Regions from separate parts of the Homo sapiens genome. Here regions 1 and 3 are each linked to region 2. Evidence: fine-mapped expression QTL. A gene starts in region 2. Each other region holds a variant in brackets. All regions are shown on one strand. Distances are between the middles of the regions.

Region 1 (10,457 bases), 150 kb before region 2:
CAAGTTCTGCAAAAGGTAGCCTGCCCGGAGTACACGGCTGGTCTTGTGTCCTGGCAACCTGCCCAAAAAGACACCAGCCCCTTTGCCAAGGAATTCCTGGCCCTCCTCCAAGGCTTGGCTCTGGAAGCCCCCACACCACGGGACTGTCCTCACCCACGCATCGGGACCCTTTCTGTCCACCTGCCTTCATGTGCGGGGTGTGCCGGGCATTCAGTGAGCACAGGCCCCATGCCTCTGACCCCTGTCCCTTTCCTGCCTGTGGGTTGGTGGCTCTCAACTCAGCCACACAGCACCTTGGAAGCTTCTTAAAAATCCCCTCGTTGGCCGGGCGCGGTGACTCATGCCTGTAATCCCAGCACTTTGGGAGGCTGAGGCAGGCGGATCATGAGGTCAGGAGATCGAGACCATCCTGGCTAACACAGTGAAACCCCGTCTCTACTAAAAATACAAAAAAATTAGCCGGGCCTGATGGCGGGTGCCTGTAGTCCCAGCTACTCGGGAGGCTGAGGTAGGAGAATGGTGTGAACCCGGGAGGTGGAGCTTGCAGTCAGCAGAGATCCAGCCACTGCACTCCAGCCTAGGCGACAGAGCAAGACTCCATCTCAAAAGAAAGAAGAAAGAAAAAAAAAATCACCTCGTCACACCCACCGCGGGAGGGCTGACTCTGGCACAGGTGAGAAGCAGGAACTGTCCCTTGCGGGGCAGGAGAGTGGGGCTGCCCTCCATTTCTGCTGAAGGCATTAGGAGGAAGGAGCCCCCCCTCCCTAGGTGTTTTTGGGGCGTTCCACTCTATTTCCTGGGACAGTTTCACTTCTTTTGATTGTGGCGAGAGAGGGCGTGCTCAGAGCCAGCGGCTGCCGGAGAGGGAAATGAGTGGCTGATGTGAGACTGGACTCTTCTGGGAAGCCGGGAGGAGAACTGAAGCCAGCGGGCTGCGAAACCACACCTTCTGGGCGGAGGCCACCCCGGCCCCACGACCTGCCCAGGCAGGACCCAGTGTGCAGGCTGGCAGGAGTGGCTCCGTCAGGGCCCTTCCCCAGCCCCCTGCCTCTCACAGGGCAGGAGGAGAGGCCCTACCGGCGAGGACCACATCCTGCCTCTGAGGGGAGGGGCTGGGGACCCGCCACGGTACCAAAGACCCACCTGGTGGCCTCTGGCTCTGGCCCTGGCCCCACCTGCCCATCTCACCTGGGAATCCAGGACCCTGCCTTCCTGAGCCCCAGGACGACTTCCTGAACCCCCACAACCGCCTGACTCCTCGCACCCCTGACACCCGGGAGGCTGTGCCCTAACTACCCGGGTCCCTCTGCTCAGCTCCAGCCAAGTCCCTTGTGGTGACTGATGGTCCCCCACGGGCCAGGCACTGGGCAGGGGACACAACCCTGTAAGGCCCCTTCTCTCCAAGGCTTATGGGCTAGAAACCAGCACAGATGGACACAGGGATGAGCAGCCACAAGGGAAACACGGGAAAAGCAAGGCAGCCGGGCCACGTGCAGCGCCGGCCGCAAGCGCGGAAACCAAGCGTGGGCTCCTGCCCGCTGGGGCCCTACTCACTGCGGTCTCCACACCAGCACACTGCTGAGCACGGAGGGGACCGAGAGTCTGCGGCAGAGCTGGGCGCCACGGGGAGGCTCACCAGAGGGCGCCTCTGGGCTCGCTGTCAGGAGCGAGTGTTCCTAACCCTGGTGCCATCTGCCAGGCAAGAGCTGCCTGTTGTGGGGCAGCCAGCCCCAATGCCCCCGCATCAGAGACCCTACCGGTGGGGAGGGAGGACTGAGGCCATGGTCCCAGCAGTCCATTCCTGCCGAGGGAGACTCTGCAGGCTGGCTGTAGCCCTGACTAGTGCAGCGGACTCAGCAGTGGCAATGACAGCTCCGCACTCGAGTCCATCCCATACCCACAAGGCTCGCCTCCTGTTCCCACCCCGCATGGCAGGAAACGGAGGAAAATAATGGGGCCACTCAGTAGCCAGGGACCCAACAGGGCTCAGGGGTGAGACCACCCTCCGCTGACTGAACCTGCATCAGGGTGGCAGGGTGGGTGGGGGCCCCCTCCCCACTCTCCCACAGGGCCCCACCTGGACGGGGTCAGAGTACCAGCTGCAAACCCCGAGTGACCAACCGCAGGCCCCACAAGGGCTGCCATCCTGAGAGCAACACCAGCGCCTTCTCTCCCCATGCCTGGAACAAACAGGCCGAGCCCAAGAGGGAACAGTCTCCAAGACTCTGCCCCTGCTTCAGATGCCGGCTGGCCTCCCACAGAGGCTGTGACATGTCCCCGCCTGGAGCAGGGAGAAGTGAGGTTTGGCCAACCCTGCCAGGCGAGGACCAGGGCTGAGAAGTCACTATGGGAGAGGCCCCGGCTCAGTCAGGCCTGGCAGTGGCCTCTGGGAAGGATCCCACTGTTGCCTGCCGGACACTTCCCCAGGGTTTGGCAAGACTGGCTTGTGGTCTTTCAGATCTTTGCCCAGAGATGCCCAGCGGAGACCTGCCCACTCTATGCTCACGCATCCCACCTGCACCCGCCACCTGCATGCCGCATGGATTTTCTGCCTGACCCTGTACTCTGTCACCTGTGAGCCAGGCACCTGGGAAACGAGCAAGCTGGACACGAAGATGGGGTTTTGCCCCAGAGCATGGGACTCTTGTCCCCCTGGGAGAAGGGGGCTATTCCTTTGAAGCCTGGCATTCATTAGAGTTTAGACCTTTGGCTCTCTTTGGAGGGGAGCAAGGGATGTGACACACAGAACAGAGAATACAAGGTGGAAAAATACAGAAATGAACTGTGAAGACACTGTGGACTGAGAGTCAGGACAGGGCTACCGTAGGCAGGAGAATCCCAGGTTTTACCCAGAGGGGTGTGGGCAGCTGCCCTGTGCCCGGCAGGCACAGCTGTGGTGGCCACTTGGCAGGAGCAGGAGGAAAATTCCGAATCCTGCCGAGTGGAGCTGGCTGCTGCCGATGGGCGGCCTTGGGATTTAAACATCTCAGCGGGGAAACCTGATCCACACAGCACGGAACACAAATGCCCGTCTCGGGCTTGGTGCCCCAGCAGACTATCTGCTCTGATGAATTCACAGGGTTTTGTTTTTTTTTCTCTTTTAAAGAAGAAAGCCAGCGTGGGGGAGGGCAAGGGAGGGCTGCTGTGGCCCAGCCTGCAGGGATGCGCCACATTTGCCCGCAGAGGGGTCGGCCCCAGGGTCCTCAGGTCTCACTGGCAGTCATGCTGTGGTGCTTGGTAATTTCCAGGTTCACAGCAGAGTTCACGGGTCCTCCCTCGGCTGGGGAGCGGGTCTCTGGCTGGTGTCTGCCTGCCCGTCGGCATCGGTGGTGCTGTGGTGCTGCACGCTGTGCTACAGAGCCATCTCCGCGTCCCTCCCTGCAGTCCTCCTCAGCGGAATCTGTGAGCGCACAGACCACAGGGGCCTCGCCCAGTGCCAGGCACAGAGCGGAGAAATGGCAGGTGGGCACGGCTGGTCAACCGCAGCGAATACCTGTGACAAGGCCTCATCTTTTTTTTTCTTTTTAAAGAGGCAGGGGTCTCACTATGTTGCCCAGGCTGGTCTCAAACTCGGCCTCAAGCAATCCTACCTCAGCCTTCCAAGTGCCAAAACTACAGGCATGACACAGTGTGCCTGGCCAAGGCCATACATTTACAGGACTAGGGGACAACAGCCCCAGGACAAAGCATGGGTTGGGGAGCTGGGGACCATAGGAGGGGGTCCAGGCCCAGCCACCTGCAGGACCAGGGACAGGGCAGGCAGGACACACGGAACAAGGGCCACTATTCACAGTCCCATGTGCCAGCCCCCATGCTAGGCACTCTGTGCCCGGCCCCCAACGTCACAGAGGAGGAAGCTGAAGGGGACGTGGAGGAGGCGAGTGCTCAGCCCCTCCTCACAGTGGGCGCAGTTCTAACACTGCAGCTGTGTTCAAGGCCTGGTCAGCCATGGAAAGGGGCAAAGCCAGGGTAAGGCCTGCAGAAGCAGCAGAGTCCTTATCAGACCTCTGTGCAAAACAGCTGGAATACAGGGTCGGGGTGGAGGCCCCAGGGAGGGACGTAAGGATCCCTGTGGTGTAGAAAAAGCCCTGACGTGGGAAGAGGGCAGGGGCAAAGGATGTAGGGATGTATCATATCCGTGTGTCTCTGAACCCCTTTCCATCTGCAACGCCCTTCCCTGCTGGCCCAACACCTGGGAGCCACTGCCCAACACACATGGCCACCTCGAGTCCATCACAGCTTCTTTCCCATGAGTCAAAAAGTCGAAGACGCGCACAGCCTGGAGGCGGCCTGCTGCCCAGCGACACAGGAAGCCACTGGCCTTCGTGTCCCCTTTTCCATGTGGGCTCCCAGGCTCCTGGCTTGCTGATGTGTCTGTCTGTCCTTCCTGGAAACCTTCAGTGGCCCCAGTGGCATGGGGACTCTCCAGACCTGAGGCCCTTGCGTGCTGACTATGAAAGCTCGCCTATCTACAGGGGCGGCGCTGGCTGCAGGCAGCTCTGAGCTTTCCTGTGACAGTAAGTGCCTGGCATGGGTGGGGTTGTGGCCCCTGGGCTCCTGGTCTGGGAGCCTGCAGGGCATCCGCAGGTGAAAAGCAGGAGTAGTCATTCCTGCACATGCTCAGGGATGAGGCCAGGAGGGGGAGGGAGAGGAGCAGTGGGAGGGGGGGCCACAGGAGCACCACAGGTGCCAAGTGACCCTCACAGGTGCCAGGTGATCCTCATGGCCCGGCGGCGAGGAATCAGACGGCAGAAACCCACTCCCCAGCCCAAGGGAAGATGGAGGGAGCCTCTGCCTTGGGGCTGACTGGGTCATCACCCACTGTGTGTGATGCACGGAGGGAAGGGTCCCGACAGCCGGGGCTCCCCTCAGCATCTGGGAGTTCTGAGAGCCCTGGATTTGCCACTGTCCTTCGAGCCTCCAGCCTCTCAGTAGAGATCTCCCCTCCTGTCCATCAAGGCTGAATGGTTTTTAAAAAGCAGCCTTTGGGAACGGAGGCACTGAAAACAATGAATCAAGACAAAGTTTCTGAAATTATTTTCTCACGGAAACCCCAAACCAGACGCTGCCACCATGGCCAGATTGGGCACCCGGGGACAGCCACAGACCCACCTCTGTGGCGGGTCAGGCGCTCCTCTGGGAACCAAGCTCTGGCAGCAAAAGGACAGTGGCTCTGGAAGCCCCAGGCGTCCTCTCAGCCAAAGGGGCAGTCCCTTGGGCCTGGGCTGGCAACCGAGATACCGGCTCTGGACTGGAACCAGAATGGGCTCTGCCTCAGACCAGGCCACAGAGGGCCCCCTGAGAGCCCGGCTTCCCCACGGCCCCCAGGCTGTGGGGACAGGCCTGCCACAGACTTCCTGGCCAGAGGTGTGGCTGGGTGCCATGGTAGGGAAAGACAGCCAGACATTGGGGGCCATGGTGCGGCCCGGCCACCGCAGTCTAAATCGCCTTGGGGGTGCGTTTCTGCCAACTGTGGTGCTGGCCATTCATGCCGTCTCTCAGGCTGTCGGGCCCTGCCCTGCCTGACTCCTGGCTCTTGGAGCTGGAGAAAGGACTCTCAGATTGGCAGAGAGCGATAAATGCTTTGTTGTGTGCGCGGCAGCGAGCCGATGTCATTTGAAGTCACAGCACATGAAAATGAGGGGGAGAAAAAAACTTAGGCAAGAGAAATCCTCCAGATGGGCCCTGGAGGCCCCATCCAAGAGTCTGAGGCCAACACATCAGGGGAACTGGAAGCAGAGAGGGAATCAGCCACTGGAAAGAAGTCACGCAGACGAAGTGGTGACAGCCACGACAGGAAATTGCTCAGCGGTGGCCACAACAGAGTGGCAGCCAGGGGCCAGGGGCCAGCTCTGTGACCATCCCCGAGAGAGAAAGGGGACATTCAGGCCTGGTCTATGATGGTCTGGTGGCCGGAGGCTCCGTGAGGGCAGCCCCAGGGCCAGAAGGA[C/T]CTCTCCTGTGCTGACAGCAAAGTCACCAGCGGGAGTCCAGCCCACACTGCCTTTCTGATGAGGCCTCCAGCTCTGGCTGCTGACTTTAAACCCTAAGGAACCCTGTGCAGGGCCTGCATCCCGGAAGGCCTCCACCAGCCCGAACCTGGCCCGTCCGCCCTAGATGGGGCAATCGGCGTTTCTCCCGGGACAGCCTCCTCCCTGGCCTCCTGGCCCTCGTCTGCATTGAGAGGCTTGGCCTCTGGTCCGCATGCTGCCCTTCCCGTGCTGTGGCCTTGCAGCCCGGCCTCTCCCCTGCTGTCCCCCTTGGCTCTGGCCTGGCCCCTGGGCCCCTGAGTCACCCCTGAGGTGACTCAGCAGTCCTTGGAAACGCATGCCGAGGACGCACCCTGCCTGGCCCAGCTCCACATGGGTGTGGGGGAGGCTGCGGGCTGCGCCTGGTGGCCGTATGGGGCCTAGGCTGGCCAGTGCTGCCCAATGGTGGGGGCTCCCTCACCGCCCGTCTGGCAGAAGCCATGGGCCACACGCTGTCCCAGCACATGGTGGCAGGGCGGTGACCTGGGCTCGGCTCTAATGACCGGCAGCCCTGGGGCTCCCATCACCACTACCAGTCTGCCCAGGAGGCAGCAGAGCACTGAGCCCGACCTGCTCCCCTCGGGCACCTACGAGACCCACCTGCCCCTCCATGCGTGGGGGAGAAGGGGTGCCCTCTGCTGTGGAAAGCTGGGACCTACTGTCTGTGGTGCGAGGCTGACCCCACAGAGCTCCAGGACAACCCCGAGAGGAGTGGACAGAGCCAGCCGGGCCCTCCAGCCCCCACCTGGCCCAGCTGCCGCCTCTGGGCAGATGTCTCCACTTGATAAACAGGACAGCTAAGGGCCTAGGAGAGACATGCCTGGCCCAAGGCCAGACAGCAGGAGTGGCTAGGAAGGTCAAGGGATCCCCACTGCAGGCCCCACCAACCCTGGCTCTGCCTGGAATGCAGTCAGGGCAGGTGGAAGGGGAGGGGCAACGCCCCAGGGCTGGGCGAGGAATCTGGGAGCAGGTGGGAAGCTCATGCTACCTTCCCAGGAGACGGGAGGACAGGCCTGCCAACCAGGGGGCTCAGCTATGTGGGACACACGCTCCCACCCTTGCCCTTGCACAGGGTTTCATCCAAACATGGAGATGCCAGTGAGTGCCTGGGGCTCCTCTCCCAGGAACAAACCACACCCAGAGCTCCAGCCCGAGCGAACACATCTACATGAAAATCAGCCTCATGCATCATGCATTGTAATTTCTCATCTTGGGGACCAGGCAGGAGGGCTGTGTGACATACAACTGGTAAAATCAGTTTCCGATGAAAACTTATAAAAGGAAAAAGCCAACCCACAAACAAATGAGGCGATAAATCCCCTGAGGCTCCGCCTGGCAGGGAAACACCAGCTCTGCAGCACTGAGCACAGGCTGGTGTTCCCACTGGGGGCAGCATGGAGGATCTGCGTCCAGGGGGCAGAGTGTGATGACATCACCCACATGCACAGGAACGATAAGGCTTTCTTAAAAAACGATCTTTTCTCAACAGCTCCTCAAAAGGAGCTGAGGCAATGCATAGCCCTGCAGGAAGAGACTGGAAATGGTCTTGGAGAGAGAACTGCGGGGCATGGTGACAGCGGTGAGAGGCTGCAGGTGCACAGATCTCAACGAGGGGCCGTGAGTTCCCTCACTCCCTGAGAGCTGAGGAGACTTGCCCGAAAGCCCAGAGCCCTTCCTGAGACACAGAAACCATCTTCACCATCTCTAAGATCCCTTCCATTTCTGAAGGACTTCCATTTCTTTGTGACTGTGGGCCACCATGGGCATGAGTCACCTGTCACCAGAGCCTGGTGTCCCTGTGCAGCTGTGCCAGGTGGGCAGAGGAGACAGGTGAAGGCACATTCCTCAGCGCCCGCTCACAGCTCTGCCCACCGTGCATTCTGTAGAGAACCTCAGCGCCCTCCTCCCTGCCGGCAGCCAGGCAGGGATTTAGGTGGTTTCTGTTTGGCCTCCAGTGCTTGCCTCTCCCGTGTCCTATCCGCCCAGACCTCAGACCTCAGAGAAGCCTCCTCCCACAGGAAGCTCTCCTGATTGATCCCCATCACTGGTCTCCTCACCTTCTCCCAACACACCACTGATGCCTCCTCTCTCGTGCGCCTGCCCCTTCACACTTCATCTTACACCCCCATCTGCCTGGGCGGCCCCCCCATCTCCCCTCAGAGCTTTTGCTCTCGCTGTTCCTTCTCCCTCACTGAGCCTCCCTGGATCTTCCCATGCTGGGTCTTAGCCACCAGGGCTCTGTCCATCCAAATGTCCCCATGGCTGCAAGGCTGCCCCACCCTCCTGCTATCCTCACGGGGCCTCGCATTCCTCTTGCTTGCTTGTTTTCGGGTCCCCTGCTGTCCCGTCTCAGACACAGGAAGCACTCTCCAATGCTTAGCGCCCTAGAATAAAGGACCCCGGGCAACCTCTTGGGGGTCCTCGCCACATCCCACCCCTTGACAGCAGCTAAGCTCCGGGGGCAGCAACTCCCCGCAGTGACCCGGAAGGCAGCCAGATGATACTCCTCCCATCACCTTCCCTTTTGTGGCTCGTGGACGGTTCACCTGGGCTGACACTGATGGAGGCCGCCAGGCCCATTCCCAGCCTGGAGCTGGCTCCCTCCCCAGAGAGCTGCAAGGTTGGGAAAATTTGCAAAGAACAAAACGTGAGCTAGGCAGGCCTAGCCTGACTCACATCCTGGGGACCCAGCTACCACATTTGGGCAGTTTCTTATCCAGGAGGATGCCCGGGAACAGTGACAGGTCTGAGGTCTGGGCGGATAGGACACGGGAGAGGCAAGCACTGGAGGCCAAACAGAAACCGCCTAAATCCCTGCCTGGCTGCCAGCAGGGAGGAGGGCACTGAGGTTCTCTACAGAATGCGTGGTGGGCAGAGCTGTGAGCGGGCACTGAGGAATGTGCCTTCACCTGTCTCCTCTGCCTATCTGGCACACTTACACAGGGACACCAGGCTCTGGTGACAGGTGACTCATGCCCATGGTGGCCCACAGTCACGAAGACAGGTTTTCTGAGGTGTGGCTACCAAAAGCACCCAGGCCAGAAGTCATCCCGGGTGGCACGGGGCAGGGCAGGGGGTGGTGAGAGGCGGTCAGCAGCTCTGCACAGCCAGCCGCGCCTGTGCACTGGGGCCCTCTGCGAGCATTAGGTGCCAGCAGCTGTCACCTTGCAGTGGCCACTCCTGCCCCCTCGCCAGGTCACGTGCACTGGCTCTGGCGCATGGGTGCCCCTGGCCGCTCAGAGGCACTGCCTGCTCCTTACACAGTGATGTCGGTGGTGGAAACCCGGGCTGGGAATCTCAGAATTGCTGACCACGGCCTCAGCACAGAGGAAGCAGGCAAATGGCCCGAGTCCCCCCACCATCTCCCCTGCAGCGAGAAGACTGCAGCCTCTCCTGTCTGAAGACTCGCGTTTGGGTCCCGGGCCTGGGAGATTCTGGCGGGTGCAGCCTGCTTCCCAGGGCCCCTTCTGCCCCGCTGTGGCTCATCGTCCTTGGAGGGACACCACTCGGGACAGGCTCTCGTCGCCAACCCACCCCAAGTTCTCTGTCCTCAAACACAAGCTTCCTGCCAGCAGGGCCAGGCACAGGGACAGGGGTGGCAGAGGCAGCACAGGGCCTGGCACCCAGGTGGCGTCAGTCACTGAGTATATGGTGAGATAATAAATACTAGTTGTTGAGATAACAAATAAATAAGAAGCAGCCCTGCCCTCGGGAGCTCAGGTGTGCCAGTAACACATCAGAGCAAAGGTGTGCCGTAACGCCACGAGGCAAGCAGGCTGACGTGGGATTAGGGTGCCTGGATGGGCGACACCGGGACTGGATGTGGTTCCAGCTCTGCCGTTCGGGGCTGTGACTCTGAGCAGGAACACAAACCCCTCTGAGCCTCGGTTTTCTCAACCATCTCAGGCGTGGATGTGCTTTAGAAACTACACACCACCAGGCCAGGTGCGGTGGCTCACACCTGTAATCCCAGCACTTTGGGAAACCGAGACGGGCAGATCACCTGAGGTCAGGAGTTTGAGACCAGCCTGACCAACAGGGAGAAACCCCATCTCTACTAAAAATACAAAAATTAGCTGGGCATGGTGGTGCATGCCTGTAATCCCAGCTACTTGGGAGGCTGAGGCAGCAGAATCGCTTGAACCCGGGAGGCGGAGGTTGTGGTGAGCTGAGATCGCGCCATTGTACTCCAGCCTGGGCAACAAGAGTAAAACTCTCTCAAAAAATAAAAATAAAAAAAACAGAAACCATACACCACCCTACGATCCTAGGCTACTGTGCACTGAGCAACTGAGTCCCGAGGAATGATGGGTGTGGGGCCGGCCAGGGGTTTCACCTCCGCCCCACGACACTGCCTCTGAGCCCAGTTTTTCTGGAGCAAGAGGCTTCATGCAGGCCCTTAAGAAGAAGAAGAAAAGGAACACACCTTAC
Region 2 (9,760 bases):
TCATTATATCCAGGCTGGGTGTGATGGCTGATGCCTGCAATCCTAGCATGTTGGGAGGCCAAGGTGGGAGGATCACTTGAGCCCAGGAGTTTAAGATCAACCTGGGCAACCAAACAAGACCCAGTCTCTACAAAATTTTAACAACTGGCTGGGCGGGGGGCACACCTGTAGTCCCAGCTATTTGGGAGGCTGAGGTGGGAGGATTGCTTGAGCCCAGGAGGTTGAGGCAATAGTGAGATATGATCGTACCACTGTACTCCAGCCTGGGCAACAACATGAGATTCTGTCTCAAAAATAATGATATACGCCTGTAATCCCAGCACTTTGGGAGGCCGAGGCGGGCAGATCACGAGGTCAGGAGATCGAGACCATCCTGGCTAACACAGTGAAACCCTGTCTCTACTAAAAAAATACAAAAAATTAGCCGGGTGTGGTGGTGGGCGCCTGTAGTCCCAGCTACTCGGGAGGCTGAGGCAGGAGAATGGCATGAACCCGGGAAGGCGGAGCTTGCAGTGAGCCGAGATCGCGCCACTGCACTCCAGCCTGGGTGAAAGAGCGAAACTCTGTCTCAAATAATAATGATAATGATAATAATAATAATATATTCAGGCTGGGCACAGTGGCTCATGCCTATAATCCCAGCACTATGGGTGGCTAAGGCAGGAGGATTGCTTGAGCCCACGAGTTTAAGAGCAGCCTGGGCAACGGTGAGACCCCATCTTTAAAAAAAAAAACAGGCCGGGCACGGTGGCTCACGCCTGTAATCCCAGCACTTTGGGAGGCCGAGGCAGGTGGATCACCTGAGGTCAAGAGTTCGAGACCAGCCTGACCAACATGGCGAAACCCTGTCTCTACTAAAAATACAAAAATTAGCCAGGCATGGTGGCAGGCACCTGTAATCCCAGCTACTCTGGAGGCTGAGGCAGGAGAATCGCTTGAACCCAGGAGGCAGAGATTGCAGTGAGCCGAGATCGTGCCATTGCCCTCCAGCCTGGGTGACAGAGCGAGACTGTCTCAAAAGATAAAAAAAAATTAAAAAACACAAAAATGAATGAAGATGATGATGGCCTAGGAGTTCTAACTCTCGGGTGTACCTGTGAGGTGCTACTTTTTTTGTTTGTTTGTTTTTTGAAACAGAGTCTCACTCTGTCACCCAGACTGGAGTGCAGTGGCGAGATCTCGGCTCACTGCAGTCTCCGCCTCCTGGGTTCAGTAATTTTTCTGCCTCAGCCTCCTGAGTAGCTGGTATTACAGGCGTGCACCACCATGCCCAGCTAATTTTTGTATTTTTAGTAGAGATGAGGTTTCACCATGTTGGCCAGGCTGGTCTCAAACTCCTGAGCTCAACTGATCTGCCTGCCTCAGCCTCCCAAAGTGTTGGGATTACAGGTGTGAACCACCGTGCCCGGCCAAGGTGCTATTTTAATTCAGTAGTTTTCAACTGGGTGATTCTGCCCCCAGGGGGCACTGGGTGATGTCTGGAGACATCTGTAGTTGTCACAACTTGGGGAGGCTCCTGGCATGGAGTAGGTGGAGACCAGGGATGCTGCTCGGCACCCTGCAGTGCCCAGGATGGCCCCACCCCAGAGAATGATCCAACCCCAAATATCCACAGTACTGAGGTTGAGAAGCCCGGAAATTGTATTCTCAGAACACATCTCCCAGCTTTGGCTCAGGTGGGCACCTTGGGCCCTGTAGTTGGAGAGACCCAGGTTCAAGTCCCAGCTTTTTACCCTCTCCTGCTCCCGACACTCGCTGTGTGGCCTTAGGCAAGCCACATGCCCTCTCTGAGCTAATATCCTCATCTGGAAAATGCTGATTAAAACAGATCCTCTTGCCAGGCGCAGTGGCTAATGCCTGTAATCCCAGCACTTTGGGAGGCTGAGGTGGGTGGATCACTTGAGGTCAGGAGTTGGAGACCAGCCTGGTGAAACCAACATGGTGAAACCCCGTATCTACTAAAAATACAAAAATTAGCTGGGCATGGCGGTGAGCACTTGTAGTCCCAGCTACTCAGGAGGTTGAGGCAGGAGAATCGCTTGAACCTGGGAGGCAGAGGTTGCAGTGAACTGAGATTGTGCCACTGCACTCCAGCCTGGGTGAAACAGCAAAACTGCATCTCAAAAAATAAAAGTAGAAGAAATAAAGTGCTTACGCTGCTGTCGCTTTGGTCTCATCTTGCCAGGCACAGCCCTGTGTAGACTGGAACCTTACGTGATTAGAGTGGGGTAGCACTGCACCCATTTCACAGATGTGGAAATAGAGGCTCAGAGGGGAAGCTCCGCCTGGGATCCCCAGGCTGTCTGCCTTCCCTCAGGCCCACAGCAGCCCCCCAGATAGCAGGAACTGAAATGTCCCAGGAGGGAGCAGCCCCCCAGATAGCAGGAACTGAAATGTCGCAGGAGGGGGCACCCCCAGGGCTCCTGCCACATCAGACCCTGCCCTGCACATCCTCTCACCTTTTCCGAAGGTTGCAGCTCCTTCTCCGTCCATGGGGCCGTCTGCTCTGGGTGGGCAGCCACTGTGGGGACAGGGGCCGGTCAGGGAGAGTGAGGGATGCAGTTAGAACCATCTACCCGGCTGCCCATTGCACAATAGCCAGGCACAGCCTAAAAGGTCAGGAATGTTTCAGCTACCCCGCCAGGGACAGCAGGAGGTGACATCCACGGCTACCAGCCAGACCTGGTCACCCCCCAACCCCGCTGGGGGCTCCCCCCAAGCCCAGGGCCGCTGTTCCCTGAAGTAGGGCTCTGTGGAACTTCCTCTGCTGGGTGGACACCCACCCTGAGTCCCGGGGTTCATATAGCCTGGCATGGGGGAACAGCCCCTTGCCCAGCCCGCCCCGCCCCCACCGCAGCTGCCTGCTGCCTATTGCCAGGCCAAGGCATGTGGAGCAGAAGTCAGCTGCCTGGGGCTCTGGGCCCAGAGGGAGGCCCAGCTCAGGCGGCTGCCCCAACCCTGGGTTCCCTGTCACCGTCCCTGATCGCCCAAGCTGAGCCACAGGAGGCTGGGGAGCCCCTGGGCTGTGTGACCCCAGGGGAGCTGTTGCTCCTCCCTGGGAGTCTGGATCTCACTCTGATGAGCTCAGATGGGCAGAGCACCCAGCCTGGGCCATGGTGCATCAGAAACGGAGTGCAGGGTGGGGGAACGGCCGAGGGACTGAGTGGGGGGGCATTGCAGGGAGACAGGCTGGGTTGAAAGCCACCTTCGGCCACTCACCCCCCATATTTATGCCTCAGTTTCCCCATCCACCACAAGATGTCCTAGTGTCTGATGAGAGCACACAGACAAATATGGAGGACTCCCCAAATGGCTGGAAGTCCCTGCCCGGGGAGCTCCTTCTCCCAGGTCCATGTGTAGAGTCCCCCCACGCCCCCAGCTGGGCCAGCCACTCACCCTGAGCCTGTGGTTGGGCAGCCTCGGCAGCAGGCGCTCCTGTGGGGTCAGCGGCCGGCCGGGCTCTCGCCGAGCTATGTGCGTTGGCCACCAGGTTCCGGGCAGAGCTGAAGCCAGGCAGGGACCCAAAGAAGCTGCCCAGGGTCTGCATGGGGGCGGGGGGTGTGCAGGATGAGCAGGCCAAGCCTCGGCAGGAACGGGTCAGAGGAAGCATCGATTGATCAGCCCAATGCCGCCCCGGCCCCTTGCTCCTGGGTGACCTCAGGAAAGTGTTTCAGCCACTCAGCCTCAATTTCCACACCTGGGCAATGGGCAGACTCAGCCTGCCTCCCATGCACAGAGGAAAAGATCGTCTACCCGATCTCCAAAGACCTTTTCCTTCCAGGATCCCCACTGCACAGATGGGGAAACTGAGGCTCAGAGAGGGGCGGAGCTGAGGCCGGCCCAAGGTCACTTGCTGGGGAAGGTGTCGAGGTCTGCGTGGGTCCCCCGCCTCCAGCTTGGGTCAGAAAGGAAGGGATTGGCATCATGGCTCCCAGACCGCCCCCACCAGCCCACCAGGGAAGCACCTCTCCAGATTCGAGACCCCAGGACTGTGGAGGTCACCTTCCCCGGCTCTGGGGCATCTCCAGGCCCCAGCAAGAATCTGCCCCATTTCCCCTCTTTACCTTGCCCTTCGGTTTGGGGGGATCCCGTCTCCCTTCGTCTGGAGCAGACATAGTGAGAACGTGAGAAGCTGGAAGGGGGCAGAGAAGGTGCGTGAATGGGGGTTCCCTAGCCTCCCATCCCACACCCACTCCCCACTGAAAGCCTGAGCAGCCCGACACCCACCTGCAGGCCTGGCCTCACCCTGGTGTCACCGAAGCAGACGCGGCCCCGCTCACCTGGACTGCGCGGGGTCCCCTGGAGGACGGACCGGCCCGGCTGGCAGCTGGCTCTACCCTCAGCTCCCTGGCCTTATAGGGTCCGGGGCAGGCGCAGGCCCAGCCAGCAGCGGCAGGCGGCCAATGGGCCCGGGGGAGGTGGCCTGGACGGTCACATGGCTACCTGCCCAGCCCAGCATGGGCCCAGGCCCAGCACCTTTCCCCTGTTTCCTGCCCACAGCTTGCATCAGGCTGAGTGGCTCACAGGCCAGATGGGCTCCCCTCCCGGGCCCCTGAGCCTCCAGTTCCATCCACGAGGTGGGTGTAGTTCAAATCTCTGCTGCACCAGGATGCCTTGGCCAGTTACCATCTTTTTGCTTCAGGTTTCTCTCTCGTACTCCGCACCACGTCCCGTAACATCCAGCTTCTTCTCTGCTCTCATCTCCCCCAGCTTCCTCCTTCGCTTGCTTCATCCCAGCCACACAGGCCTCCTCGCTATGCCTCCAGCGCACCTGGCACGGTCCTGCCTTAGGGCCTCTGCACGGGCTGTGCCCTCTGCCTGGAACACCTTCCCTGCAGGTTCCCACAGGGCACCCTCTTCCGCCCACAGAACAGTGCCTGGCATACATTTGGCGCTTAATACACGTTTGGCTCAATGGAGCAACACAGAGAGTGGTTGTGAGCCTCTGTGAGATGAGGTCATGCACTGAACAAATGCTGCCTTCGCGTTACCCAGGCAGAAGCGGGGTCTCGGGGTCTCGGCAAGGAGCAGGGGGTGTCCTCAGTGTGGAGGGGAGCCCATCACTCTCCGGAAGGGACTTGGGCCAAAACGCAGACCAAGATGGAGCACCAGCCAAGCTGGGGGCACCCTAGGAGTGGAAACCCAGCCTGGGGGGCTTGGGCCAACCCAGGGAGGCTCCCTGGAGGAGGCGTCCTGTTCCAGAAGTGGTGAGGATGGGATTCAAACCCAGACCCTCCTGTTCCAGGAAGTGGTGAGGACGGGATTCAAACCCAGACCCAGGACCTTCGTGCTGAGCCCAGCCTATGTGCTGGGCTGTCTGTGGGTGGGTGGGCAGAGGAATGGCCGTAACGCCCACCCTGGGCTGTGTCCCCCTCCTACCTGCCCCTGAGACAGGGTTCCTAGCCCTGTGTTATTGGGGGTGAGAGGGCAGACCCCATGGGTGGCTCTGGGCACTGGGCTGGGAGGAGGGAGGGTACAGCCACAGGATCTGATGATTCCCAGGCCGTCTGTCTCCTTGGAGCCGACACTGTGTTTGCCAAACAGTGGGGGAACAGAAGGGGGGGTGTCCCCCAACCTCTTCTACCAGCCAGTGCTTCCCAAGGGTGGCTGGGAGAGCTCTGGGTGCCCCTCCCCTTCCCAAAGGGCAGCCACAGCCCAGTGTGTGGAGAGAAAAAATTAAAAAGTGATCATAAACATCCCAGCCAGGATCTACCCCTCCTCTGCCCAGCACCCTCCATGGCTCCCACCTTCTCCGGGGTGGGAGCCCAGGGTCAAAGCCCAAGTCCCCTTCCTGCAGCCCGGTAGGCCCTGCATAACCTGCCTCGTCTGCTCCCCACCTTCCTCTCCTTCTTCTCTTCACTCTGCTCCAGCCACACGGGCCTTTTCACTGTTCCCATAACATGCCAGGACAGAGTCCCTCAAAGACACACGTGACTGTGCCTGCTTAGCCCCGCACACCCTTCCTCAGGGCTTTCGTGTGGGTTGTTGCTTTTGCCTCCAGCACCCTTTCCCACATCCCTCACCTCCTTCCAGGTCTTTCCTCAAATATCACTTCCTCAAAGAGGCATTCCTGGATCTCCTCTCCCTTTAAAAAATATATACCTCAGGCCAGGTGCCATGGCTCACCCTGTAACCCCAGCATTTAGGGAGACCGAGGCAGGAGGATTGGCTTGAGCACAGGAGTTTGAGACCAGCCTGGGCGACAGAGCGCCACCCCGCCTCAAAAGAACAAAAGAAAAAAAAAAAAAAATAAATAAAAAAAATATATTTTATATATATATATTTCTGTTGAGGCGGGGTCGCGCTCTGTCGCCCAGGCTGGAGTACAGTGGTGCGATCTCGGCTCACTGCAAGCTCTGCCTCCCGGGTTCATGCCATTCTCCTGCCTCAGCCTCCCGAGTAGCTGGGACTACAGGCACTCGCCACCACACCCAGCTAATTTTTTGTATTTTTAGTAGAGACAGGGTTTCACTGTGCTAGGCAGGATGGTCTCGATCTCCTGACCTCGTGATCCACCTGCCTCGGCCTCCCAAAGCGCTGGGGTTACAGGCATGAGCCACTGTGCCCGGCTGCCCAAAATATATCTTTAAATAAAAATTAAATGAATTAATGGGCCAGGCGCGGTGACTCATGCCTGTAATCCCAGCATCTTGGGAGGCCGAGGCAGGTGGATCACCTGAGGTCAGGGTTCGAGACCAGCCTGGCCAACATGGCAAAACCCTATCTCTACTAAAAATACAAAAATCAGCTGTGTGTGGTGGCGCACGCCTGTAATCCCAGCTACTCGGGAGGCTGAGGCAGGAGAATCACTTGAACCTGGGAGGTGGAGGTTGCAGTGAGCCAAGATCGCGCCACTGCACTCCAGCCTGGGTGACAGAGTGAGACTCCTTCCCCACCCCCCCAAAGAAAAGAAAAGAAAAGAAAAATCCCAGGGCTTAGCTCAACCCATTCTCTTTTCCTCACCTCTGCTGCAGTGAAACTGATTTCCCTACTGCTGTGCCTTTCCCTAAGCTGTTCCCTCTGCCAAAATGCCTACCCCTATGTGCTGTTCTGATCATCCTCAACAGGCCTGGCCCTGCCAGGAGCCCCCAGCCTCATGTGGGAAGAGAGAGCAAGGCTGCCTGTGGCTATAAAGTCAAGGTGGAAAGGGCAAGAAACCTTGAGAAGGTGGCCTGTGGAGGACCGGAGGAGGGAAGTATCCGGCTGGGATGGAGTCCTGGAAGCCTTCCTGGAGGAGGAGGCATTGAGGCTGGGCCTTGAGGATGTATGAGATGTGTCCGAGGGACGGATGGGGGGTGGGAAGAGTATTCCAAGGTGGCCGCACAGCCTCAGCAAAGGCCCGGAGGTGGGAATGTGCCCACTTCAATGGTAAGAGAGCAAAGTATCCAGGTCAGGCTGGAGGAGGAAGCTGGAAGGTGAAGAGTTTGGTCTGTGGGCAGTGGGGACCTGTGGGAGATTCCAGAACAGGAGCAGGGAGGTAGATTTGGCTGGTGGAAGTGGTCGGAGATCCCAGAGCTGCCCTCTGGACTATGTCCCAGGGAAGTCAGGGGCCACCCTGACCTCACCATACCAAGCTGTGGTTTCCCAACACCCCGCCCAGCCCCAGGGGAGTCGGAAGAGCAGCCAGGAATGCGGTCAGAGGACAGGAGGAAACCCCCGAGACCAGCCTATGGCCCTTGCCCTGCCTCTGTCTTCCCATCCTGGCCAGTGCAGCTGGAGAGACCACAGCAAGACCAGCTCCTGCAGGACCAGGAGGTAGAGAGAGAGCTGCCCCATCTGACTCCTTCCCCATCTTTTCTGCTCCCTGCAATTCCATGAAATTCACCTGTACCAAGATGAGAACAGCTTCCATGCGGCCAAAGGGGCAATGCTGTTGTTTATTTTTAGAGACAGGGTCTCACTCTGTTGCCCAGGCTGGAGTGGAGTGGTTACTGATCCAAGCTCACTGCAACCTCAACTTCCTAGGCTCAAGCGATCCTGCTGCCTCAGCCTCCCGAGTAGCTGGGGCACAGGCTCGTACCATGTGTCATTTTAAAATTTTTCGTAGAGACAAGGTCTCCTATGTTGCCCAGGCTGGTGTCAAAACTCCCGGGCTCATGAAATCCTCCCACCTCAGCCTCCCAAAGTGCTGGGATTACCGATATGAGCCATGGTGCCCGGCTAATTTTAAGTGGTAATGCTTACCCCACATGGGCTGGGCAGTAACGGTGGATCCCAGACAGGATGACAGGCAGGTCAGAGAAGCACCATTCTTCTAGATCTTGAACTCTGGCTCTACACACCCCCTTCTCCATGTCTCAGCAGTGACACACCTCCGTGGCCCCCAGCCCCCTGGGACTGAGACTCACCCTGGCTGGAACACACACGTGGGCCTTTCAACAACAAAAAGGACCTTTATTCTGGAGGCAAATCCCAAACAGCAAAGCAAGCGAGTATGGCAGGCTGAGCAGCACGGCCCATGGGCAGAGGAGGGCTCACTTTTCAAAGTTCCAAATAGGGCAAAATGTGTGTTTCCCTAGGAAGTATTTTTTAAAAACATTTTTGAGATAGAGTCTTGCTCTGTCACCCAGGCGAGAGCGCAGGGGCAAGATCATGGCTCACTGCAGCCTCCAACTCCTGGGCTCAAGCAGTCCTCCCACCTTGGCCTCCCAAAGTGCTGTGATAACAGGTGTCAACCACCACACCCAGTCAGGGCTCACTTTTCAAAGCCCCAAACAGAAGGCATTGGGCAAAATGTGTATTTCTTCGGGAGGCTGTTACTATTATTTTTTGTTAGATGGAGTCTCGCTCTGTCACCCAGGCTGGTGTGCAGTGGCGCGATCTCTGCTCACTGCAAGCTCCGCGCCTCTCGGGTTTAAGCAATTCTTCTGCGTCAGCCTCACAACTAGCTGGGACTACAGGTGCACACCACCACACCTGGCTTTTTTTTTTTTTTTCTTTCTTTCTAAGTAGAGACAGGGTTTCATCATGTTGGCCAGGATGATCCCGAACTCCTGACTTCAGATGATCCACCTGCCTCAGACTCCCAAAGTGCTGGGATTACAGGCGTGAGCCACTGTGCCCAGCCTCTTGGAAAGATTTGGATTCGCTTCATGGAGCCAGGGAGCAGGACATAGGTGAAGAACCCAGCTTGTGGCTCAAGTTGGCCTGAATAGGGTTCGAGGCCCTGCTCCCCCGGGCCTCTTTGTCCATGTGTTCAAGGAAAAAATGGGAGAGTCCAATACCAAAAAGGTGGTCAGAGATCCGGAGTTGGGCCTGATTCCAAAGAAGGGTCAAGGCCAAGGCCTCGAGCTTACGTGTGGCCACCAGGGGGCAGCAGGGATCGGGGTGTGCAGGTGGCCTTTCCTCCCCGCCTCCACTGGCCCATGGGTCAGAAGTCCAGCTCGGGCATCAGGGTGTGCTTGACCGGGCAGCTGGGGGTCTCGGGTTCCTGCTCGCAGATGTCCCCGGCAACACCCATCCTGTCCCCATCCCCATTCCCACTCCCGTCCCTGTGCTCTGCCTCCCAGGCTCTCTGCTGGGCCGGCCAGTCCAGGTGCGCCCAGCGGGGGTCAGGGCCCCCGATGACCTCGTCCACCAGGTCCGCCAGGTCGGGCAGGGGCTCGGGTCGCTCCACAAGGATGGGCGCGAAGGGTCCCACCAGCCAGGGCAGCGGCACGGCCTGCACCACCAGCTCCAGCAGCTCGTCCACGCAGGCGTGCGCGTGGGCCACGCGACCCCGGCCCTCGGCCAGCGCGGCCGCTGGCACGTCCCTGAAGCA
Region 3 (10,457 bases), 21 kb after region 2:
GCTGGTCTCAAACTCCTGGGCTCAAGTGATCTGCCCACCTCGGCCTCCCAAAGTGCTGGGATTACAGGCATGAGACACTGCACCTGGCCAGCTGTGTGATTTTTGGCAAGCACCTTCACCTCTCTGGGCTGCTTCCTGTTTTGTAAGATGTGGGAGGTCCCTGCTACCCCTGCGGCCCCTGCCTGGGCCCAGAACTGCCCAAGCACCCTAGACGGCTGGAGGTGGTAGCTGCTGGGTCCCAGTCCACTCACAGCTCATTTGACAGACAGGGCAACTGAGGTACGCAGCAGGTCCATGCTGGTCCCAAGGTCACGCAGCCAGCTAGAGTTACAGGGGGGGAGCTCGACCTCGGGCCTCAGACCTGCCGCCTGCGATCCCTCCGGTTGCCACCCCGCGTCCTCTGAGGCCTGGTCCTCGCCCAACTGGGTCCTGAGCTGGGGCCAACCGGGCCAAGGGTCCCAGCCACCTGCTCTGGCCGGTCATACCCGTCCCACGCCGCCGGACCTTCGCCCAACCACCCTATCTGGAGCTCCTCTCCTAAGCCCGGGGGGGCGCTCCCGGACGCCGCCCTCAGGGCACTCACCTGGGCGCGAGCGGCTTCAGACACCAGCTGTCTCCGCCGACCCCAGGCTCGAGTCTCCACACCCCCGCCGGTCCCGCCCGCCCTTCTTATAGCTGCTCGCGCAGTGGGGGCCTCCGGAACTGACCAATGGGGAGAGGCCGTGCGGGGGCGTGCCCAGGGGGCGTGGCTCCAGGCTTCCCTCGCCCTCTCCTTGAGCTGGCCCAGTGCCCTACGGTTGCCATAGTAATTCGGGAGCGCTAGATTCAAAAGATTGAGCTATTATACGTTCCCGGACCAAGTTTGGCCACCTGTCATCCTCACTGCTGTTGCCATAGAGACAGTCCATGCGATCACAGCCCCCATAGCCCTGCTGAGTGACCTTGGCCAACTCGCTGATGACTTTTCTTATTAATTATTATTATTTATCGATTTTTGAGACTGGGTCTTGCTCGGTTGCCCAGGGCTAGAGTGCAGTGGTGTGATCATAGCTCACTGCAGCCTTGCCCTCCCAGGCTGAGGTGATCCTCCCGCCTCAGTCTCCTAAGTAGCTGGGACCACAGGCACACACCACCACCCCCAGCTAACTTTTTAAACTTTTTGTAGAGACGAGATGTCCCTGTGTTGACCAGGCTTGTCTTCAACCCCTGAGCCCCAAGTGATCCTTCCACCTCAGCCTTCCAAATTGCTGGGATTACAGGTGTGAGCCATTGCACCCAGCCTCTTTTTATTTCTTAATCTGCCCCTTAACTAAGCCAGAAGCCAGGCCTTCCCTTTCCCTAGGATCCCCATTTCACAGATGAGCAAGCTGAGGCTCAGAGATCATAAAACACTTGCCCCGCATACCACAGCAAGTGAGGGATCCTATTCCTTTTTTTTCTTTTTTTTTTTTTGAGACAGAGTCTGACTCTGTCGCCCAGGCTGGAGTGCAGTGGCGCGATCTTGACACACTGCAACCTCCGCCCCCTGGGTTCAAGTGATTCTCCTGCCTCGGCCTCCGGAGTAGCTGGGATTACAGGCGCCTGCCACCACACCTAGCTAATTTTTGTATTTTTAGTAGAGACGGGGTGTCACCATATTCGTCAGGCTGGTCTTGGACTCCTGACCTCGTGATTTGCCTGCCTTGGCCTCCCAAAGTACTAGGATTACAGGCATGAGCCACCGTGCCCGGCCAGGGATCCTATTCAAACCCAGCCCTGCTGGACCTCAGAACCCTGCCTTTTCATTGCCTTGCCTGGAATGACCACAGATGTAGGCATGGTCTTTTTATTTTTATTTTTATTTTTGAGACACAGTTTCACTCTGTCGCCCAGCCTGGAGTGCAGTGGCGTGATCTTGGCTCACTGCAACCTCCGCCTCCCAGGTTCAAGTGATTCTCCTGCCTGACCCTCCCAAGTAGCTGGTATTACAGGCACGTGCCACTGTGCCTGGCTAATTTTTGTATTTTTAGTAGAGACAGGGTTTTGCCATGTTGGCCAGTCTGGTCTCGAACTCCTGACCTCCGGTGATCTGCCTGCCTCAGCCTCCCAAAGTGTTTGGATTACAGGCATGAGCCACGGCGCCAGGCTGCATGGTCATTTTTTAGGGAGCTGGGAAAACTGGACATGCCCCCAAGCCCCAGGGTCTTCCAAATCCGATTGCAGCCCCCACATGGCCAATGCTGTATCAGCAGGTGGGCCCGGGACCCTGCTCATCCCTTCAGCCCCATCCTGCCCCTGCAACCTTGCCCGGGGGCAGGTGCCCCCTTCGATGATCTCAGGTCAGCATGACAAATCGTTTGGAGACCTGGGCAATCTGGTTTAACTTAAACCTTCTCCTAGGACACAAGCCCTGGCAGAAATCCACTGGTAAAATGACACCCGGGCAACAGTCAAGGTTTTATTTCCAGTTAGGTCCCAGGATGGGGGAAGGGAGAGGAGAAGTCACAGGCCATTGATCCCAACTGTCATCCCCTAGGGAGACCATATCCCACACCCCAGGGCCTGGGCCATGCCTCTTTTCCTCCTTCACCCTGGAGTCCTGGGAAGTTGATTTGAGAAGATGCTAGGAACACAATGAAAGCCAATTCATCCGATCCAGTTTTCAAGGGTTATTTATTAAACCCCTTGGTTCTGACCCCAAGCTAAGTGGGACTCAGCATCAGACCCTGCACTCAGAGAGCCCCCTGACTTGGGGAAGACAGAGTCAGAGAAAGGCAGCCCCAGTGTGGCCAGGGCTCAGCTGGAAGGAAGGACAAGGGGCTGGGAGAACCCAGAGTTCAAGAGATCTGGGAAACAGGGAACGGCATTCCAGACGGAGGGCACACCTTGGGCATGGGTAAGGAAAGCCCATCGTGTGTTCTAGGAAGCATGGATGGATGAAACGGGGTCCCAGCCGCTATGGACAGCCCCGAGTTTCACCTGTAAAAGGCAGGATTATTTGTTTTTAATTTTAATTTTAATTTTTTTGAGACAGTCTTGCTCTGTCGCCCAGGCTAGAGTGCAGTGGCACGATCTTGGCTCACCGCAAGCTCCGCCTCCCAAGTTCACGCCATTCTCCTGCCTCAGCCTCCCGAGTTGCTGGGACTACAGGTGCCCACCACCACGCCTGGCTAATTTTTTATATTTTTAGTAGAGACAGGGTTTCACCATGTTAGCCAAGATGGTCTCGATCTCCTGACCTCGTGATCCGCCCACCTGGGCCTCCCAAAGTGCTGGGATTACAGGCGTGAGCCCCCGCACCCGGCCAAAGGCAGGATTATTTGTTAAGCGGGTTGCAGTGTTCTACCAGACCCCCCACCCTCAACCCAAGCCCCTGGTCTCACTGGGACTTGGCCACTGCCAGGAGCGTCTGGCCCTTCACGGCTTCAGGCCCAGCACAGCGCGTGTCATTCTGGGAAAACATCTTGTCTTTTTGGGCCTGAAGCCAACGATAGAGGTCGCTCAGGTTCTGGTCACAGATCCAGGGGTTGCCGGAGATGTCGAAGCCATCCCGCATGTCCCAGTTTGGCTGCCCTAGGGATGCCCAGAGCCCCTCGGGCACGCTGGCCAGTGAGTTATTGGAGAGGTCCAGCATGTCCAGCTGCCGCAGGCCCTGGAAGGCACCGGCTGCCACCCTGGCCAGCTTGTTGCCGTTCAGGAAGAGGTAGCGCAGGTCCGGCTGCGGCAAGAGGAGATCTTTTCCCAGTACTTGCAATTTGTTGCCTTCTAGATGTAGCCGTTCTAATTGCAGCGGACCCCTCAGGAGGTCAGGTGGCAAGGTCTCCAACTGGTTCTCCCCAAGGTCAAGGGTGCGCAGGAGGGTGAAGTTGGCCAGCAGCCCGGGGGGCAGTTTCCGGAGGCGGTTCCCAGACAGGTCCAGATGCCCCAGAGCTTTCAGGCCGTGTAGCCACGAGACCTCCAGGACCTCCAGCTGGTTTTCTTTCAATACCAGGGTGTCCAGGGTGGCTGAGGCCTGGAAGAGGCCCGGGGGCAGCCCGGTCAGGGCGTTTCGGGTTAGATCCAGCACCCTCAGCTGCGGCACTGGCCGCAGGAATTCGGGCGAGAGGCTTTCCAGCCCATTGCTGGAGAGGTGCAATTCTTGGAGCTTAGAGGCGCCCTGGAGGAGGTTGGCTGGCAGGTGGGTCAGGTTGAAGAATTCCACGGCCAGGTGCACGGTGTCGGCTGGCAGGTAGCCGGGGATTTCGGCAGGTGGTTGACAGGAGATGGAGCTGCCATGGTCTGAGCGGAACACCTGGCAGTCTTTGGGGCTCAGGGTGACCCCCCAGGCTGAGGCTGCCAACAGCAGCAGCAGGAACAGAGTTCTAGAAACATGGGGTTGAATGCCCCCTGGGCTGCAGGCAGTAACAGAAGATGCTTACTAAACCACAGTGAAAATACACTCAGCTAGGTGAAAATACACCAGCAAATCCGCCCACTTCTTCCCATCTCTGCGGCTACCAGCCTGGACTATGCTACCTCATCTCTCACCTGTACTAGGGCAGTTGCTTCCTCCTCCTCTTCCAGCTTCTACCCTCACCCCCGACAGCTGCCAGAAGTGGCCCCTGTTCCAGGGAGAATTATAATTCTAGGAAAGTTGAGTTTCTGAGTGTAACTCCCGCATAATATGAATACACTTCCCCATCACCAGCCTAGCCCCCATGAGCTGTTAATTATTCACAGTCCAACTTGCTAGTTTCTTCTGAT[C/G]TGGCTTATTTTCTGGGTCAGTCCTTGTCTCCCTGGCTCTGTGTTTTGATGTGAACTCCTATTCATCCTTCAAAGCCCCAGCTCCAATGCCCTCTTTTCCATGAAGACTTCTCTGCTCTGGGATCCTGGTCTTTTTGTCCACTCTTGACCAATTGGGTGCTTGGAGGAAGACAGACGTTCAGGTTCATGTTTTTGAGACAGAGTCTTGCTCAGTTGCCCAGGCTGGAGGGAACTGGCATGATCACAGCTCACTGCAGCCTCTGAACATGAAAAGTGTGTCCTGCTTTGGCCAGGTCTGAGGGTGGGCATTTGGCCTTGGGAAGCGGTGGTTTACACTTAGCACCACAACCCTTGGAAGCCTGGGGCTTCCCCTCCTCCTCCAGGGCTTCCCTGGCCCGGCAGCCATCAGACATGATCTCGACAGCCTTGGTCACTGTGGCCCCAGGCCTCTAACAAGAAGCCTCCCCCGGCTCCCTGCTGCCCATGCCCACCTGGGCTTCTGTAGGGGTGTGTGTGTGTGTGCACGCGCCAGTCTTTCTGTCACAGATAAGGTTGATCTGTGCCAGCCACCAGGCCTGTATCTGCTCCCTGTGACTTCTATGGGTTAGCTGGAATGTCCTGTATCTCCGCATGGTCTGGCGTTCAAACCTGCCTAGGACAGGTAGTGTGGGGACCTACCTTTTTGGTCGCTGTCTGCTCCAAGAGGACATGGTAGCTCTGCTCTTTTGCTTCTGGGTTGTCCTGGCCTGCGGAGGTGGCCTTATACCTGCCTGGACTGGGGGCAGGGGAACCAACCCTGGGGAAGTCCCCACCCCCGTCCAGTTCCTGATAGGGGCTGAGCCTAAGCCAGGCAGGGGAAGGGGAGGGGTCAGGATTACAAAATTGCTTCCTGGAAATTGTTTCCTGTTCAACCCCTTTTTGACCCTGCTTCTAGAACACAGGTTTTTCTTTCCTTGCTTCCTGATTTTTGGGGGGCATCCAAGAGTCTCTCTAGTTGCATCCTCACTTCCCCCAACCCGGAGTTCAAGGGTCAAGGTTTGCAAGGCACTATTCCTGGAGACAGGGACAGCTCTCTGAGCAAGAGGAGGGATTTACCATAAACTTGAGCAACCCAGAAGCTCACTGAAAAGAACAAAAAAACTCGTCTTGATTTCATGGTATGTTGATATTGCTTTTTTTAAAAGAAGTCATTTTAAAAATACAGTCCAATAGTGAGTAATGCCAAACGTCTCTACGGTCCTTAGACAGTGGCTTGGGAGGAACCAAACCTGGTTCTGAATTCCAGCTCTGTCATGAACACCTTTGCTTTGTGACCTTTGGCAAGTGACTTAACTTTTCTTGGCCTCAGTTTCCCCATCTATGAAGCTGAACTCAAATCTCCAAGGGCTCCTTCTGCCCTTTTTTCTCTTCATCTGAATCTGACATCCATGCTATTGTTTCCATTCTTCCTCATTTCCTATTAAATGCGTTTGGAGGCTACAAATTTCCCTTTGAGAACAGCTTTGGCTGCATCTCATGGACTTGGCTGCAGAGTGCTTGCATTCTTGTTGAGTTCTAAATATTTAGGTATGATGGTGTCACCTTTATCTGCAGCTATGACTATTTTTTTTTTCTTTTTTTTTTTGAGACAGAGTCTTGCACTGTTGCCTAGGCTGGAGTGCAGTGGCGTGATCTCCACTCACTGCAAGCTCCGCCTCCCGGGTTCACGCCATTCTCCCACCTCAGCCTCCCGAGTAGCTGGGACTACAGGCATGCACCAGCGTGCCTGGTTAATTTTTATATTTTTAATAGAGACAGGATTTTGCCATGTGGCCCAGGCTGGTCTTGAACTCCTGAGCTCATGTGATCCACTGGCCTCGGCCTCCTAAACTGCTAAAATTACAGGTGTGAGCCACCATGCCCCGTCATTTTTTTTTTTTTTTGAGACAGCATTTTGCTCTGTTACCCAGCTTGGAGCAGTGTGGTGCAATCATAGCTAACTGTAGCTTTGACCATGGGTCCAAGGCCTCCCAAGTAGCTGGGACTACGGGCACGTGCCACCATGCCTGGCTAATTTTTTTTGAGATGGAGTCTCCCTCTGCCACCCATGCTGGAGTGCAGTGATGCAATTTCGGCTCACTGCAAGCTCCACCTCCTGGGTTCAAACGATTCTCCTGCCTCAGCCTCCCGAGTAGCTGGGAATACAGGCACATGCTACCATGCCTGGCTAATTTAAAAAATTCTTTTGTATGTTACCTAGGCTGGTCTCAAACTCCTGGGCTCAAGGAATCTTCTCAGTCTCTCAAAGTGCTGGGGTTATAGACGTGAGCCACTGCACTCCGTCAGTCTTGTGCCCTGCCCAGTCTCCGGAGCCCAGCCGTTAGTTGGTCTTAATCAACATGGACTGAGAGGAAGGAAGGCTTGTGAAATGTAGTGACACAGTAACAAAACGATCCATTAAAATGAAATGAGATCACATCCCTGCTTAAAACTCTCTGATGGCTTCTTGTCCCACTTAAAACAAAATTCATAAGGCTGGCCAGGCGCAGTGGCTCACGCCTGTAATCCCAGCATTTTGGGAGGCCGAGGCAAGCGGATCACCTGAGTTCAGGAGTTCGAGACCAGCCTGACCAATATGATGAAACCCCGTCTGTACTAAAAATACAAAAATTAGCGGGGCGTGGTGGCGGGTGCCTGTAGTCCCAGCTACTGGAGAGGCTGAGACAGGAGAATTGCTTGCACCCAGGAGGCATAGGTTGCAGTGAGCCGAGATCGCGCCACTATACTCCAGCCTGGGTGACAAAGTGAGACTCTGTCTCAAAAAAAGAAAAAGAAAAAGAAAAAGAAACTGGCTCCTATGCAGATGAAGATGGGGACCCCGAAGTCTCCATGTTTCCACACTCAGCTCCCCAGATTTGTTTTGACCCAGCCTTTTTTTTTTTTTTTTTTTTGAGACAGCGTCTCGCTCTGTCACCCAGGCTGTAGTGCAGTGGTGTGATCTCAGCTCACTGCAACCTCTGACTCTCAGATTCAAGCTATTCTTCTGCCTCAGTCGGCCGAGTAGCTGGAATTACAGGAACCCGCCACCAAGCCTGGCTGATTTTTTGTATTTTTAGTAGAGACGGGGTTTTGCCATGTTGGCCAGGCTAGTCTCGAACTCTTGACCTCAAGTGATCTGCACACCTCGGCCTCCCAAAGTGCCGGGATTACAGGCGTGAGCCACCGCGCCCGGCCTGGCCTTGACTTTTGAGGGTGCCCCCACCCGTGCCACCCCCAGGAGGCAGAGCAGAGCCAGAGTCATGGGGGCCGGTGGTTGTAAACAGAGTTTTATTGATGGGGAGGGGGCTGGGGGAGGCAAACTCCAGAGAGGGCAGAGGACCCAGCCAGCCACGTGGCATGCATGGTCAGCTGGAGGTCAGAGGGGGGAGGTCACAAGGGGACGGGTGGCATGGGACTCTCTCACCACCCTGGGGCCGTATTTACAGAGGGGCCCCACCCACCTTCGCCGCCCCCCAGGCCCCCAAGCCCTTTAGACAGCTGCTGCCGATGTGACTTCCGGGCAGGCCCTCCTCGTGTCTCCTGCCTGAAACCCCGGCATTGTCCCCGCTTCCCTCTGCAGAGTGGGGGGGGTTCAAACTCCTAACCGGCACCTCGGAGACCCCCGGGCCTTCTGGAAGCCCCAGCGTCGGCTCAGCCAACGCCCAGGCCGCTGGGGCCACCACGATCGTCGCTCGTGGACACACACCCTGCACGCGTGGCCCACTTGACACACACGCCCACAGCAGCCTTCGCTGGCACGCACACACACGCCCACCTCCCCGGCCCCTTGCACACGAACACGGCACGCACACGCACGCACACCCACACACGCCAGGGGCCTGGGTTGGGGAGGGACCTTTCCAGGGGTGGGGGAGGGCTTAGGTCTGCAGCTGTGGCCCCCCATTCCCCACCGGCGTCCAAGCCTCCCCTGCCTGCCGCCACCCCGAGAACGGAGTTGTGCAATTGGTTAGAAAACCGCAAAAGAAACCAAAACTGCAAAAAAAACCAAAACCTACGCGCATAAGGTCAACCTCAAATCCATAGCAAAGTCCTCCCGCCCACCCACCCCCAAACCGTCTCAGCGTCCTGCGGCCCCGGGTAGGGGGAGGGCGAGCTGGTTGTGCTTCCTTGTGGCGGAGGGGGCCCCCCACTCCGCGGGTGGGTCGCGGGGGGGACTTGAGCACCCACTCGGAGTTGCCCCGGGCCCCGGCGTTCTGGCACCGTCTCTCGCTCCTGGTTCCCGTGGCTGGCACTGCCAAGGCATCGGGGGGCCCCCGGCCTAGGGCACGGGGGGCGCAGTCCTGTCCGCCCCCCCATAGGGGAGGAGGTGGGCCAAGTCTGTGCCCGGCCGGGCGTGGCAGCCGCGGTGGCGGTCCCCAGGCCGGGCCTCGCCGCTGTTGAACGTGTGGGTGCGGCGCAGGGTGGCGGCCGGAGGGGCGTGGGGGCCCAGTGGCCTCCTCAGGCTGCCCGTCGGGGGCGGGCTCCAGGGCCGCGGGAGGCCATCGGCGGCTGAGGCTGGGTCCAAGGGGCCCGTGGGCGCGGACACCACCCGCCGGCGGTCCGGGCTGGCGTGGGGGGTGAGCGGGAAGTCGCCGTGGGAGGCGCGGCCGGGCCGGGCAGCATAGAGGCGGCCGTCGGGGGTCGGCTCCCCAGGCGCGGGGGGCTGCTCGGGGGCCCGGGCGGGCGCCAGCAGCAGGAGGGAGGATGAAGCGGAGGCCGGGAGCAGGGGGTGGCCGTGGTCCCAGGCGCGGGGGCCCAGGGCGTGGGGGTGCGGGTGCGGAGTGGGCAGGCGCTTCTGCGGCAGCGGCGTCTGCTCGGGCGTGGGCAGCAGCCCCGAGTCCAGGTCGTGGGGCCCGCCCTGCAGCAGCGTGGCCTTGGCCCAGCCGTTCTGCATCAGGGGCGCCAGCAGGGCCTCCGGGGGAACCCCGGCGCCACCGCCACCGCCTCCGCCCCGGCCCCCGGGACCCTGCGCCCTGCGCTCGCCCAGGCGGCTGACGCTCAGCACCGCCTCGCCCGCCCCGTGCGCCAGGATGGCCTCCTTGTCCTTGCGCCGGGCCAGCTCCCGCCGCTCACGGAGGCCCACGAACCAGCCCACGCTGAAGCCGGACACCACGGCTCCCACCACGAAGGCCGCCACCGACGACGTTACCAGCAGGTTCACCGACACCAGCCCCGCGCGGTCCTCGGAGAGGCTGGCCCGCAGGAGTCCTGGCCGGGGAGCACAGGGGGGTTAGTGGGGCCGGCGGGGTGGCCCTGGGCATCCCTCCTACCTCCTCGGGGCCCTCTGTCCTCTTTTTTATTATTTTTATTTTTTTTTATTTATTTATTTTTTGAGAAGGAGTCTTCCTTTGTGTGCCAGGCTGGAGTGCAGTGGGGCGATCTCGATTCACTGCAACCTCCGCCTCCCATGTTCAAGTGATTCTCCTGCCTCAGCCTCCCGAGTAGCTGGGACCACAGGTGCCCACCACCACGCCCGGCTAATTTTTGTATTTTTAGTAGGATGGGGTTTCACCACGTTGGCCAGGCTGGTCTGAACTCCTGACCTTGTGATCCGCCCACCTCTGCCTCCCAAAGTGCTGGGATTACAGGCATAAGCCACCACGACTGGCCTTATTTTTATTATTTTTTAATTTTTTTTGTTTGTTTGTTTTGAGACAGTCCCCCAGGCTAGAGTGCAGTGGTAAAGCTCACTGCAACCCTGCCTCCAGCTACCTGTT

The links.
Region 1: its variant is fine-mapped to the expression of PLIN4 in whole blood (TOPMed, PIP 0.90).
Region 3: its variant is fine-mapped to the expression of PLIN4 in whole blood (TOPMed, PIP above 0.99).

What each region holds. Positions count from the first base shown.
Region 1 is chr19:4,368,468-4,378,924 of GRCh38, forward strand. All of the region lies in intron 1 of SH3GL1 (SH3 domain containing GRB2 like 1, endophilin A2), which reads right to left. Among named protein-coding and RNA genes, the nearest start is that of SH3GL1, 27 kb to the right of the region's middle. RefSeq lists enhancers at 3,967-4,700, 4,701-5,434, 6,125-6,419, 6,169-6,901, 6,185-6,479 and 9 more and a silencer at 6,805-7,099. The variant C/T (reference allele first, on the strand shown) is at 5,951.
Region 2 is chr19:4,514,158-4,523,917 of GRCh38, forward strand. It overlaps PLIN4 (perilipin 4), which reads right to left and starts at 4,329. Exons shown (of 8, transcript NM_001367868.2): 1 at 4,228-4,329; 2 at 4,065-4,132; 3 at 3,397-3,541; 4 at 2,460-2,521. The coding sequence starts at 4,115. It overlaps PLIN5 (perilipin 5), which reads right to left. Exons shown (of 8, transcript NM_001013706.3): 8 at 8,374-9,760. The coding sequence ends at 9,371.
Region 3 is chr19:4,534,582-4,545,038 of GRCh38, forward strand. LRG1 (leucine rich alpha-2-glycoprotein 1) reads right to left here and starts at 5,455. Exons shown (of 2, transcript NM_052972.3): 1 at 5,401-5,455; 2 at 1,821-4,370. The coding sequence starts at 5,432. The coding sequence ends at 3,359. PLIN5 (perilipin 5) reads right to left here and starts at 643. Exons shown (of 8, transcript NM_001013706.3): 1 at 584-643. SEMA6B (semaphorin 6B) reads right to left here. Exons shown (of 17, transcript NM_032108.4): 17 at 8,012-9,948. The coding sequence ends at 9,020. RefSeq lists an enhancer at 1-349. The variant C/G (reference allele first, on the strand shown) is at 4,723.